Homo sapiens: one gene and its partners. The protein of the gene in region 1 interacts with the protein of each later gene in a biochemical or structural test. Each region holds a gene or a part of one and is shown on either strand. Other genes may lie near its edges. The genes, in order: APBA3, RSBN1 and LSM14A.

Region 1 (3,651 bases):
GCTGCCTGACGCGATTGTGATTAAGATGTTCTGGAATCACGGAGCAGAGAAGTCTGATTCTAGAGTGATAATAAGATTCTAAAACTCCTGACAGAATTGCTATGAGACCTGTCAGAGAGTTCTGGAATCAAGGGTCAGAACCAGCTGGGGTTCTGGAGAGTATGGGAATTTTAGACAGGCAGCAGGGTCTGTCTCTGTTCTGAGTGGTTCTACAACCCGGGAACAGAGCTGCCTGCTATCCTGGGCTGACTGCAGACGGTTCTAGAACAGTGGGCAGAGCTGGCCAGTTCTAGATTGATGGAGGGAATTCCAGAACCAAGAAGCAGGGGTCCACTGTGGTTCTAGAATGTTGTGGAGGTTTCGAAATTGGAGTGGGGGGTGGAGCGTCGTGGCTCACGCCTGTCATCCCAGTACTTTAGGAGGCCAAGGCGGGTGGATCACTTGAGGTCGGGAGTTTGAGACCAGCCTGGCCAACGTGGCGAAACCCCGTCTCTACTAAAAATACAAAAACTAGCCAGGCGTGGTGGTGGGCGCCTGTAATCCCAGCTACTCATGAGACTGAGGCAGGAGAATCGTTTGAACCCAGGAAGCGGAGGTTGCAGTGAGCTGAGATCACACCACCGAGCTCCAGCCTGGGCGACAGAGCGAGACCGTGTCTCAAAAAAGCAGGAGTGGGACTGTCTGGTTCCGGCCTGATCATGGAATTCTGGGGACACGGGGTGAAGGTATCTGTGGGTGCTAGATCTGGCTTTGAATCCAGCCATGGCCTGGACTCACTGGTTTCCCACCTGCGAGTCCTTGAGGGATGGACAGAAGGTTCTAGACCTGTGAGGGCCAGGCTGCTTGGATGGTTCTAGAACAGTGGGCTGTGCTTCCTGGCTGGAGAGTGCTAAGCCACCAGCTAGAACACTGTGTCTCCCGGCCATCTCGGAGAGCGTAGCCCTGGGGCAGAGCCTGTGGGAGTGGGCCCCTGGGGGCCGACCCTCTTCGCTGTCGCCCTCAGTGCCTGGTCCCTGTGACCATGAAGACCTCCTGGACGGTGTCATATTTGGGGCCAGGTACCTGGGGTCCACCCAGCTGGTGTCGGAACGGAACCCGCCCACCAGCACGCGCATGGCCCAGGCCCGGGAGGCCATGGACCGCGTCAAGGTGAGGGGGCGGCCGGGGCCGGGCGGGCAGGCGGGTGGGCTGCAGGCTGGGTCTGTGGGGGCCTCCACCTCCCACGCCGCCACCCACAGGCCCCCGATGGGGAGACCCAGCCCATGACGGAGGTGGACCTGTTCGTCTCCACCAAGAGGATCAAGGTCTTGACAGCGGACTCCCAGGTACGGGGCAGGGACCCGCCCCAGGGATGCGGGTGGGGTGATCGAGCCTGGCACGGCCCCCCAACCCACCCAGGCTGCCTCTCCCGCCCCAGGAGGCCATGATGGACCACGCCCTGCATACCATCTCCTACACAGCCGACATCGGCTGCGTGCTGGTGCTGATGGCGCGGCGGCGGCTGGCACGGAGGCCGGCACCCCAGGACCACGGCCGCCGCCTCTACAAGATGCTCTGCCACGTATTCTACGCGGAGGACGTGAGCAGCCAGGGCGCGGGGCCACCCTCCTGAGGCCCTCCTCACTGCAACTGTCGCCTCCCTCAGTGGGCCGTGCATTTAACCTCCCTCCCATAAGCTTATTTTTAAATTCTTTTTTTGGGACAAGGTCTCCTTCTGTCACCCAGGCTGGAGTGCAGTGGCGCAATCATAGTTCACTGCAGCCTCAACCTTCCAGGCTCAAGCGATCCTCCCACTTCAGCCTCTCTAGTAGCTGGGACCACCGGGGTATCACCATGCCTGGCTAATTTTTGTATTTTTTATAGAGACACGGTCTCGCTCTGTTGCCCAGGTGAACACGGTCTCAAACTCCTGGGCTCAAGCGATCCACCCACCTCAGCCTCCCAAAGTGCTGCAATTACAGGCGTGAGCCACCGCGTCCAGCCTCCTATAAGACTCCAAGACTCTCGGCCGACTCCCCGAAACCTTGCCCGCTCCTGGGCTGTCCCTGCCACCCATGAGGCCCCAGGCCCCCTGGCTGGGTCTTTGATAGCTTTTCCCACAGCCCATGCGCAGGGAGCTGCCTCCCTCATCGTCCCCCCAGCCCAGGGCTGCCCCTCCCCTTCCTTCTCCCCGTAGATTCCCCAAGATGCGGCTGTCTCTCCACCTCCCCCAAAGCCCCAGGGCAGAAGGCTGTGTCCTGGGACTCTCACCCCAGGTGGGGACAGGAGGGCTCAGCTCTGAGGACCCTGGGGACTTTGGGGACCTGGAGGAGGTGGGTGGGACACCCCAGGGACGCGCCACTCCTCCCCGCAGGCCCAGCTCATCGCCCAGGCCATTGGCCAGGCCTTCGCCGCCGCCTACAGCCAGTTCCTACGGGAAAGCGGTATTGACCCCAGCCAGGTGGGCGTGCACCCGAGCCCAGGCGCCTGCCACCTCCATAATGGGGACCTGGACCACTTCTCCAACAGTGACAACTGCCGGGAGGTGAGTGAGGTGCTGGGCAGCCCCCACCTGGTGCCCCCCACACCCGTGCACCTGCACCGGGCCCTGCTGAGCAGCCTCCGCGCCCCCTGTGTGTCCCAGGTGCACCTCGAGAAGCGGCGAGGGGAGGGCCTGGGCGTGGCCCTGGTGGAGTCGGGCTGGGGCTCCCTGCTGCCCACAGCCGTCATCGCCAACCTGCTGCACGGGGGGCCTGCTGAGCGCTCGGGGGCCCTCAGCATCGGGGACCGCCTGACCGCCATCAACGGGACCAGCCTGGTGGGGCTGCCCCTGGCTGCGTGCCAGGCCGCTGTCCGCGTGAGTTTCCTGGTGTGGCAGGGCCCCCACACTCCCAGGAAGGGGAGCTGAGTCCCAGAGAGGTCTCCTCCCTGGCCAGGTCTCTCCAGCCCAGCCAGGAGGGACAAAGTCGAACTTTTAAGTCCTGCCCACTGGTGTGCCCTTGGGGAAACTGAGGCCTGGAGAAGGGAGGCCACTTGTCCAGGGCACCTCCCTAGTACCAGAGCCAGGATGGAAATGCGGGTGGCCCAGCTCCAGGGCTGGGCCACTCTCTCTCTCTAACAAGAAACAGCTAATTTCTGGGGGGGTTTGTTTGTTTGAGACAAGGTCTCACTCTTGCCCAGGCTGGAGTGCAGCGGTGCACCTGGCTCATTGCAGCCTTGACCTTCTGGGCTCAAGCAAATCTCCTTCCTCAGCCTCCCGAGTAGCTGGGACCACAGGTGTGCACCACCACGCCCAGTTTATTGTTTTATTTTTTGTAGAGATGGAGTCTCACTATGTTGGTTGGCCAGGCTGGTCTTGAGCTCCTGGCCTCAAGTGATCCACCTGCCTCGGCCTCCCACAGTGCTGGGATTACAGGTGTGAGCCACTGCACCTGGCCATGTTTTTGAGTCTCAACCTTTGTTGCTCAGATGGGGAAACTGAGGCCCAGAGATAGGGAGGGACCTGCCCCCGTCAGAGGAATGAGGCCACAGTCCGTGCAGCCTCTTACAGATGTTTGCAGCCTGCCTGGAGAGCCCGGCTGTCGGCTTGGCTTTTGGCCATAAGGAAGCGATATGGCTCGGGTCAGACAGCTTCGACCCCATGCCCACCGGGCCCGAGTCTGTTCTCTATCA
Region 2 (3,651 bases), on another chromosome or scaffold:
TTTGAGAAAAACTGTGTACTGTAGCCTTCTACATATGTAACATGAATTGGCAAACTGGCATTTTAAAAGTTTTGAAAACCCTACAGAAAATAAACTGGTTTAACTTTGTTTAATCCAGGCTTTTGCACATAGTTTGACTGATATCTTTTTTGTCCTCTGAACATCTTTATTGTTACAGTGGTATGCAGGAGGCATGCCTCTGGTATTAATCTGAGTTTAAATCATGGCTCTAACACTTACTGTGTGAGCCTGAACAAATTGCTTTACCCTCTCTCAACTGCACTTTTCCTGTCTATAAAATGGGGTTGTGGTATTTCATTTATAAGGAACTTGTGTGGATTAAATAGGGCATTGTGTGAAAGTACTTACAGCAGTGCCTGGCTCATTGTAGGCACTTACTTAAAACCGGCCTTTATTATTTTATTATGCATGGTCCCTAAAACAACTCTAAGATTAATAAGGAGAGTGGGCAGATTCTTGTTACTTACAAAGCTATGTCCTTCCTTCGCTTATCCTCAGATTTTTGGAAACTATTTTAACTGTTTTTTTTTTTTAGATAATTAATGATTCACAGGAAATTGCAAACATAGTCAAGTCCTTACCTTTTACCAGTTTCCCTCAGTGGCTACATCTTACATAACTATTGTATAATATCAACACCAGGAAATTGACATTGGTACAATGTATATGTAGTTATATGCTATTTTATCATATGTAGATTAGTGTAACCACCACTACAATCAAGATACAGAACTGTTCCACCACCACAAACCCTTTACAGCCTTAGGCACTCCCTCTGTCTCTCTACTGTCCCTGTCCTCTGGCAGCCACTAACCTGTTTTGTCATTTTGAGACTATTATATAAGTTGAATCATACAGTATGTGATCTTTGGAGATTGCCCTTTTTCACTCAGTGTGATGTCCCTGAGATCCATCCCTCTTTTTCATTGCCGAATAGTGTTCCATGGTATGGATGTACCATGGTTCACCTATTGAATCATTCCCGTATAAGAAAGGACATTTTGATTATTTCTAGTTTTTGGCTATTATAGATAGAGCTTCTATGAAAATTGGTGTTCAGGTTTTTGTGTGCATGTAACTTTTCATTTCTTTGGTCGTATGGTAAATACAATTAGCCCTCTGTATCCATGGGTTCCACATCAATGGATTCAGCCAACCTGGGATTGAAAATATTTTCAAAAAAACATTGTCTGTACTGGACTTGTGCAGACTTTTTTTTTCTTGTCACTGTTCCCTAAACAATACAGTATAACAATTATTTATATAGCATGTACATTGTATTAGGTATAAATAATCTGGAGATGATTTAAAATATAGGGGAGGATGTGCATAGGTTATAAGCAATTATTATGCCATTTTATATGAAGGACTTGATCATCTTGGATTTTGTTGCCCTGGGAGGCTCTGGAACCAATCCTCCATGGATACCAAGGATGACTATATATATTTATTTTGTTTGTTTGTTTTTTAAGATACTGCCAAAGTATTTTCTGGAGTGTCGGTACCATTTTACATTCCTGTCAGCGGTGTAAGAGAAATCCATTTTCTCCACATTCTTGCCAGTATCTGGTATTGTCACTATTTTTATTTTAGCAATTTTAATAGACGTGTGGTGATACATCATCATGATCTTAATTTGCATTTCCCAAATGGCTAGTGATAATACACATCTTTTCATATCATCATTTGCTGTCTATATATCCTGGTCAGTAAAATGTCTCTTTATACCTTTTGCCTATTTTCTAATTGAATTTTGTGTGTGTGTGTGTGTGTGTGTGTGTATACATATACATATATATATATATATAATTTTTTTTTTTGAGACAGAATTTCACTCTTGTTGCCCAGGCTGGAGAGCAATGGTGCAATCTCGGCTCACTGCAACCTCTGCCTCCCGGGTTCAAGCGATTCTCCTGCCTCAGCCTCCCGAATCGCTGGGATTACAGGTGCCTGCCACCACACCCAGCTACTTTTTTATATTTTTAGTAGAGACGGGGTTTCACTGTGTTGGCCAGGCTGTTCTCGAACTCCTGACCTCAGGTGATCCACCCGCCTCAGCCTCCCAAAGTGCTGGGATTTCAGGCGTGAGCCACTGCGCCCGGCCCTTGAATTGTATATTTTTTATTACTGGGTTTTGATAATTTTTTGTAGATCACAGGTGCAGCTTCTTTGTATGGTTTGCACATATTTTCTCCCAATCTGTTGCTTGTCTTTCCATCCTTTTTGTTTGTTTGCTTGTTTTTATTTTGGTTGTTTTTTTTTTTTTTTGAGATGGATTCTCACTTTGTCACCCAGGCTGGAGTGTAGTAGCACGATCCTGGCTCACTGCAACCTCCACCTCTTGGGTTCAGGCGATTCTCCTATGTCAGCCTCCCGAGTAGCTGTGATTACAGGCATCTGCCACCATGCCCGGCTAATTTTTGTGTTTTTCAGTAGAGACGGGGTTTCGCCATATTGGTCAGGCTGGTCTTGAACTCCTGACCTCAGGTGATCCGCCCGCCTTGGTCTCCCAAAGTGCTGGGATTACAGGCATGAGCCACCACGCCCAGCCTGTTTGTTTTTGTTTTTTTGGGGAGGGTCTCACTCAGTTACCCAGGCTGCAGCACAGTGATGTGATCATGGCTCACTCTAGCCTCAACCTCTGGGGCTCAAGTGATCCTCCCACCTCAACCTCCTGAGTAGCTGAGACCACACGTGTGCACCACCACACCTGGCTAATGTTTTTTTTTTTTTTTTTTTTTTTGATAGAGGCAGGGTCTCTCTGTGTTGTCCAGGCTGGTCTCAAACTCCTGGGCTTAAGTGATCCTCCCGCCTTGGCCTACCAAAGTGTTGGGATTACAGACAGGAGCCACTGTGCCTGGTCCTTTCTACCTTCTCAGTGGGATACTTCACAGAGCAAAAATTTTAAATTTTGTTGATATCCAATTTACTAAGTTTTTTTTTTTCTTTAATGGATCATGTTTTTGGCATCATATCTAACATACCAAGTCCTAGATCCCAAAGATTTTCTCCTTTGTTTTCTTCTAAAAGTTTTATAATTTTAACTTTTGTATTTTAATCTGTCATCCATTTGAGTTAATTTTGTACAGGTGTGAGGTTTAGGTCGCCATTTTTTTTCTTCTTGCCTAAGGATATCCAGTTGCTCTAGCACCTTTTGTTGAAAAGATTAATCTTCCATTGAATTGCTTTTGCACTTTTTTCAAAAATCAGTACAACCTGTAATGTAACAATGATTTTTTTTTTTTTTTTGAGACAGAGTCTCGCTCTGTGCCAGGCTGGAGTGCAGTGGTGTGATCTCAGCTCAGTGCAACCTCCACCTCCTGGGTTCATGGGAATCTTATGCCTCAGCCTCCTGAGTAGCTGGGATTACAGGCGCCCACCACCACACCCAGCTAATTTTGTATTTTTAGTAGAGATGGGGTTTCACCATGTTGGCCAGACTGGTCTCAAACTCCTGACCTCAGGTGATGTGCCTCCCACAAGTGCTGGGATTACAGGCATGAGCCACTGTGCCTGGCCTAACAATGGTTTTTACAATTTAAAATAGTTGGAACGACCTTGTAGCGCATGGAAATCATACGAAATTTAAACTGTGTCCAGAAATAAAGCTTTATTGGAATATAGCTCTGT
Region 3 (3,651 bases), about 30 Mb from region 1:
GTAGGAAGAAATTACACAGTGGTGACATGTATGAATATTTTATGGAATAGTTCCAGTTGTGTTTGCACCTACGTCTATAAGTGAGTAGGATGCCTAAATAGGCTAAAATGAATGAAATTCTTATAAAAAATAAATTCTTACATTTAGTTAGCTTACCTGGATAATCATTCAAATGGAAACCAGGTTGCTACTGCACTGGGAAAAGAGACTTTATGAAGAACGATTATATAAGCCACTTGCCTTTAAAATAAGTTGTTCTTAAAATCAAGAGATTGGTGGAAGAATAGAAAAACAAGTAAATTGTTAACAGATTTCTTTAATCATCTGCTAAGTCTGGCTCATTGGCATAATTTATCTACTTCTTGATGTTAGTCACATAGTCATAAACTATTACCTTATTGGAGAGAGTGGAAGAGCTTTGTGTGATGGATAAAATACTTGCGGGGTGCTTTATTTGATTTCTTGCATTACTTGGGGATCTAAATCTAGCAATTCACAAAATTACTATCTAAAATGACAAAGATCTAGTGAAACTTCAAGCCACAGTTTCTTTTTGTTGCCCTATTTAGTGATGTTGCCAGTACTTGGAGCCTTGGAAACAGTTTATTATTGTTACATAGTCCGCAGAAATACTTGGTAATTCTGGGAGTCTGAAGTCAGGTGCCAGAAACTGTTCATTTTCTAGTAGGGGTAAGTAAGGTAAGCCATGATTTTCTAAGTCGGAAGTAAAGAAAACAGCATAAAACTGAAGAAAAAAAATAGTAGAAGGAAGGAAGTAGGAAGAAAAAAGAAATCTTATCTGTGCATGATACATAGCAGGAGTTTTGTATTTAACTCAGTGCCACAGTAATAATAGCAGTAACTACAGATAGTTTAACTTGAATTTAATTATTCCGTGCTAGAAGATGCTTGCTATAGAAACAATTTGTCTTTCTCTCATGATGCTATAAAATAATATATTAATTAGCTGTTTTAAAAACTAGATACCATTGAAGTAAATTTTGTTGTTGTTGTTTTGAGACAAGAGTCTCACTCTGTTGCCCAGGCTGGAGTGCAGTGGCACGATCACAGCCTTGACCTCCCTGGGCTCAGGTAATCCTCCTGCCTCAGCCTCCCAAGTAGCTGGGACCACAGGCACACACCACCACACCCAGCTAATTTTCTGTTTTTTGTAGATACAGGGTTTTGCCATGCTGCCCAGGTCGGTCTCTAACTCCTGGGCTCAAGTGATCTGCCTGCCTTGGCCTCCCAAAGTGCTGGGATTACAGGTGTGAGCCACAGTGTCTGGCTTGAAGTAAGTTTTTTAGTGGACAAAGTGTGAGTTGGTCTGTAAAATAATTTATTCCCAAGGGCCTTATTCTAGTTTTGTAGGGTTTTTTGTTTGTTTGTTTTTTTCTGGAAGAAAATGCGACCCAAAATGCCAGTTGGAATACTTAGCAGCTTTTTGGTCTTGGACAAGTTATTTAACCTTAGCTTTAACTTCTTCATCTTTTCAATAGGGATGGATAATAATGCCCATCTTTCAGAGTCATTCTGATAATTAAATGAGGTGATATAAAAGAAGTAACTAGTTTAATGTTGGTGCTTAATAGAGAATAGCTGTCCCATGTTATTTCCCACCACGATCTCCCTCTCTGTCTAGGTGCTCAGTCTCTCTAGTAGCCCAACTCAGTCAGTCATTCACACCTACTGTAGTCTACTGTCATCTTACTGCCTTTCACTGTCCTCTCATTCCCCTCATAACTTTACTTCCTTCTTTATCCTGCTTCAACTCCATGAGCAACCACGACAGTCAGTACACATTCCCTCAGCCCCCACCCCATTCCCCTCTTGCTGTCTTATACAAGAAATCACAACCCTGATTATATCAACACAGATGTGCTGACCAGCCTCACTCTAAATTTATGTTCGCTAGCCTCCGCAGTCATGGTCACTTCCTAGCAGTCACACTATACTTCCATAATCCATTTCACTTTTCTACATGGCTATTCCATTCATTTTCCTCAAGCCTCCAACACCTCCCCCATATTCACTTTCAGCCCCTTAACCGTGCTTTCTATAGCAGTTAACTGAGAAAAGAACAGCAAACGAAAGATAATTTTGATAAACTTACCCCTCACATACCCAGTTACCTGCATCTGTTCCCCAGACTTCTATGTTTTTTTCTGATCAATATGGATAAACTGTTCTTATTTCTGTCTAAGACCACCCTTCCACTTGTGCAGCATTTGTCCCCTCTTGGTGATTCAAGAACATTGCTCCAGCAGTTCTCTACTCTCCTCAGTTTTTCCTTCCCTAACGTATCTTTCTGTCTGCTTACAGATAGGCAGTTATTTCTTCTACCTTAAGAACAACCAAAAAACCCCACTGTACTTGAACTGAATTTCCTCTTTTCTAATGATTACCCCATTTCTATCCTTCCCTTTATAGCGAAACCCCTTGAAGAAGTTGTCTACACCACTGGTGTTCATTCATTTTTGAGCCCTGTTTACTAAGGTTTTTATTCCTACATATGAAGTTTTCTTATCAAAATTACCAAAGATTTCCATGTTACCAAATCCAGTAGTTAGTTCTTAGTCTCATTCTACTTCACCAGTCAGCATTACGTGGTACAGTTAGTCTGTTCTCTGTGAAGCATTTTCTTAACTTGATCGTATGCCATTTTTTTCCTCATATCTCACTGGTTACCTCTCAATCTCCTTGGCTGATTGAACCTGTAAGCCGCCAAATGTTGGGAGAGCTCCAGGGCTCAGTTATCTCCCCTTTTCTCTCTGTCTGTTAACATTTATTTAATCATCTGCATTCTTTTGATGATCTCATCCATCTAGTTCCTGGTTTCAAATACTACCTGTATATCACTGACTCCTATCTCTAGCCTGAATTTCTCCTCTGAACTCCTGACTTGTATATCCATTGCCTCTTTAACATCTCTACTTGTAGGGAAGTCTGCTAGAATCTCAATTCAGCATGCTCCAAACCTGTTCCTCCATCAGCCTTCCCCATCTAATCAAATGACAGCTCTATTCTAGTTGGTAAGACCAAAACACCTTGGAGCCATCCTTAATTCCTCTCTCTCTGTCTCACCTCATGTGATCCGAACCTATCAGCTCTGCTTTCAAACTAGATGCAGAATTTGACCTCTGACCACCCCTACTACCCTGGTCCATTATCTCTCACTAGTCTATTCAGAGATACTCAGATTCCTGTTTCTTGTTTCCAATATTGACCTCTCAGTTGATTCTTTCTCCTCCTCCCAATTTTACTTGAGTGAATCTTTGTAATTAAAAAATAAAATATATGGGAAATGTAGGTGACAAATTTTCTTAGTGAACCTATGTTTTCTTGTGCTTGACTGGTTGGTTGGCTATGTATTTCCAAATTAAGAGTCTTTTTTCTGTGGAACTTTGAAGTTACTGCTTTTTGTTCTTCTAATATTCTGGGGTTGCTGATGCCAGTCTGACTCTCAGTCACTTTTCTCTCTGGAAGCTTTTATTTAGAATTCTCTATTCCTGGAATTCACAAATGTGATCACACTGGTTTGTTGTTGTTTGTTTGTTTTTTGGTTTGGTTTGATTTTTCCTCTGAGTGTTTCTCTGTGGACCTTGTGAATCTGAAGAGTCAACTCTCGGCCGGGCGCGGTGGCTCATGCCT

Evidence for each region.
Region 2: the proteins of APBA3 (region 1) and RSBN1 interact in a test that uses a peptide from one of them, tested with the Homo sapiens proteins (one large-scale study listed by IntAct).
Region 3: the proteins of APBA3 (region 1) and LSM14A interact in a test that uses a peptide from one of them, tested with the Homo sapiens proteins (one large-scale study listed by IntAct).

What each region holds. Positions count from the first base shown.
Region 1 is NC_000019.10:3,751,693-3,755,343, reverse strand, and holds part of APBA3 (amyloid-beta A4 precursor protein-binding family A member 3), read left to right. Parts: intron 1-1,003; coding exon 1,004-1,149; intron 1,150-1,238; coding exon 1,239-1,325; intron 1,326-1,417; coding exon 1,418-1,579; intron 1,580-2,353; coding exon 2,354-2,524; intron 2,525-2,623; coding exon 2,624-2,836; intron 2,837-3,651. UniProt on the Homo sapiens protein: May modulate processing of the amyloid-beta precursor protein (APP) and hence formation of APP-beta. May enhance the activity of HIF1A in macrophages by inhibiting the activity of HIF1AN.
Region 2 is NC_000001.11:113,805,952-113,809,602, reverse strand, and holds part of RSBN1 (lysine-specific demethylase 9), read left to right. Parts: intron 1-3,651. UniProt on the Homo sapiens protein: Histone demethylase that specifically demethylates dimethylated 'Lys-20' of histone H4 (H4K20me2), thereby modulating chromosome architecture.
Region 3 is NC_000019.10:34,178,929-34,182,579, forward strand, and holds part of LSM14A (protein LSM14 homolog A), read left to right. Parts: intron 1-3,651. UniProt on the Homo sapiens protein: Essential for formation of P-bodies, cytoplasmic structures that provide storage sites for translationally inactive mRNAs and protect them from degradation. Acts as a repressor of mRNA translation. May play a role in mitotic spindle assembly.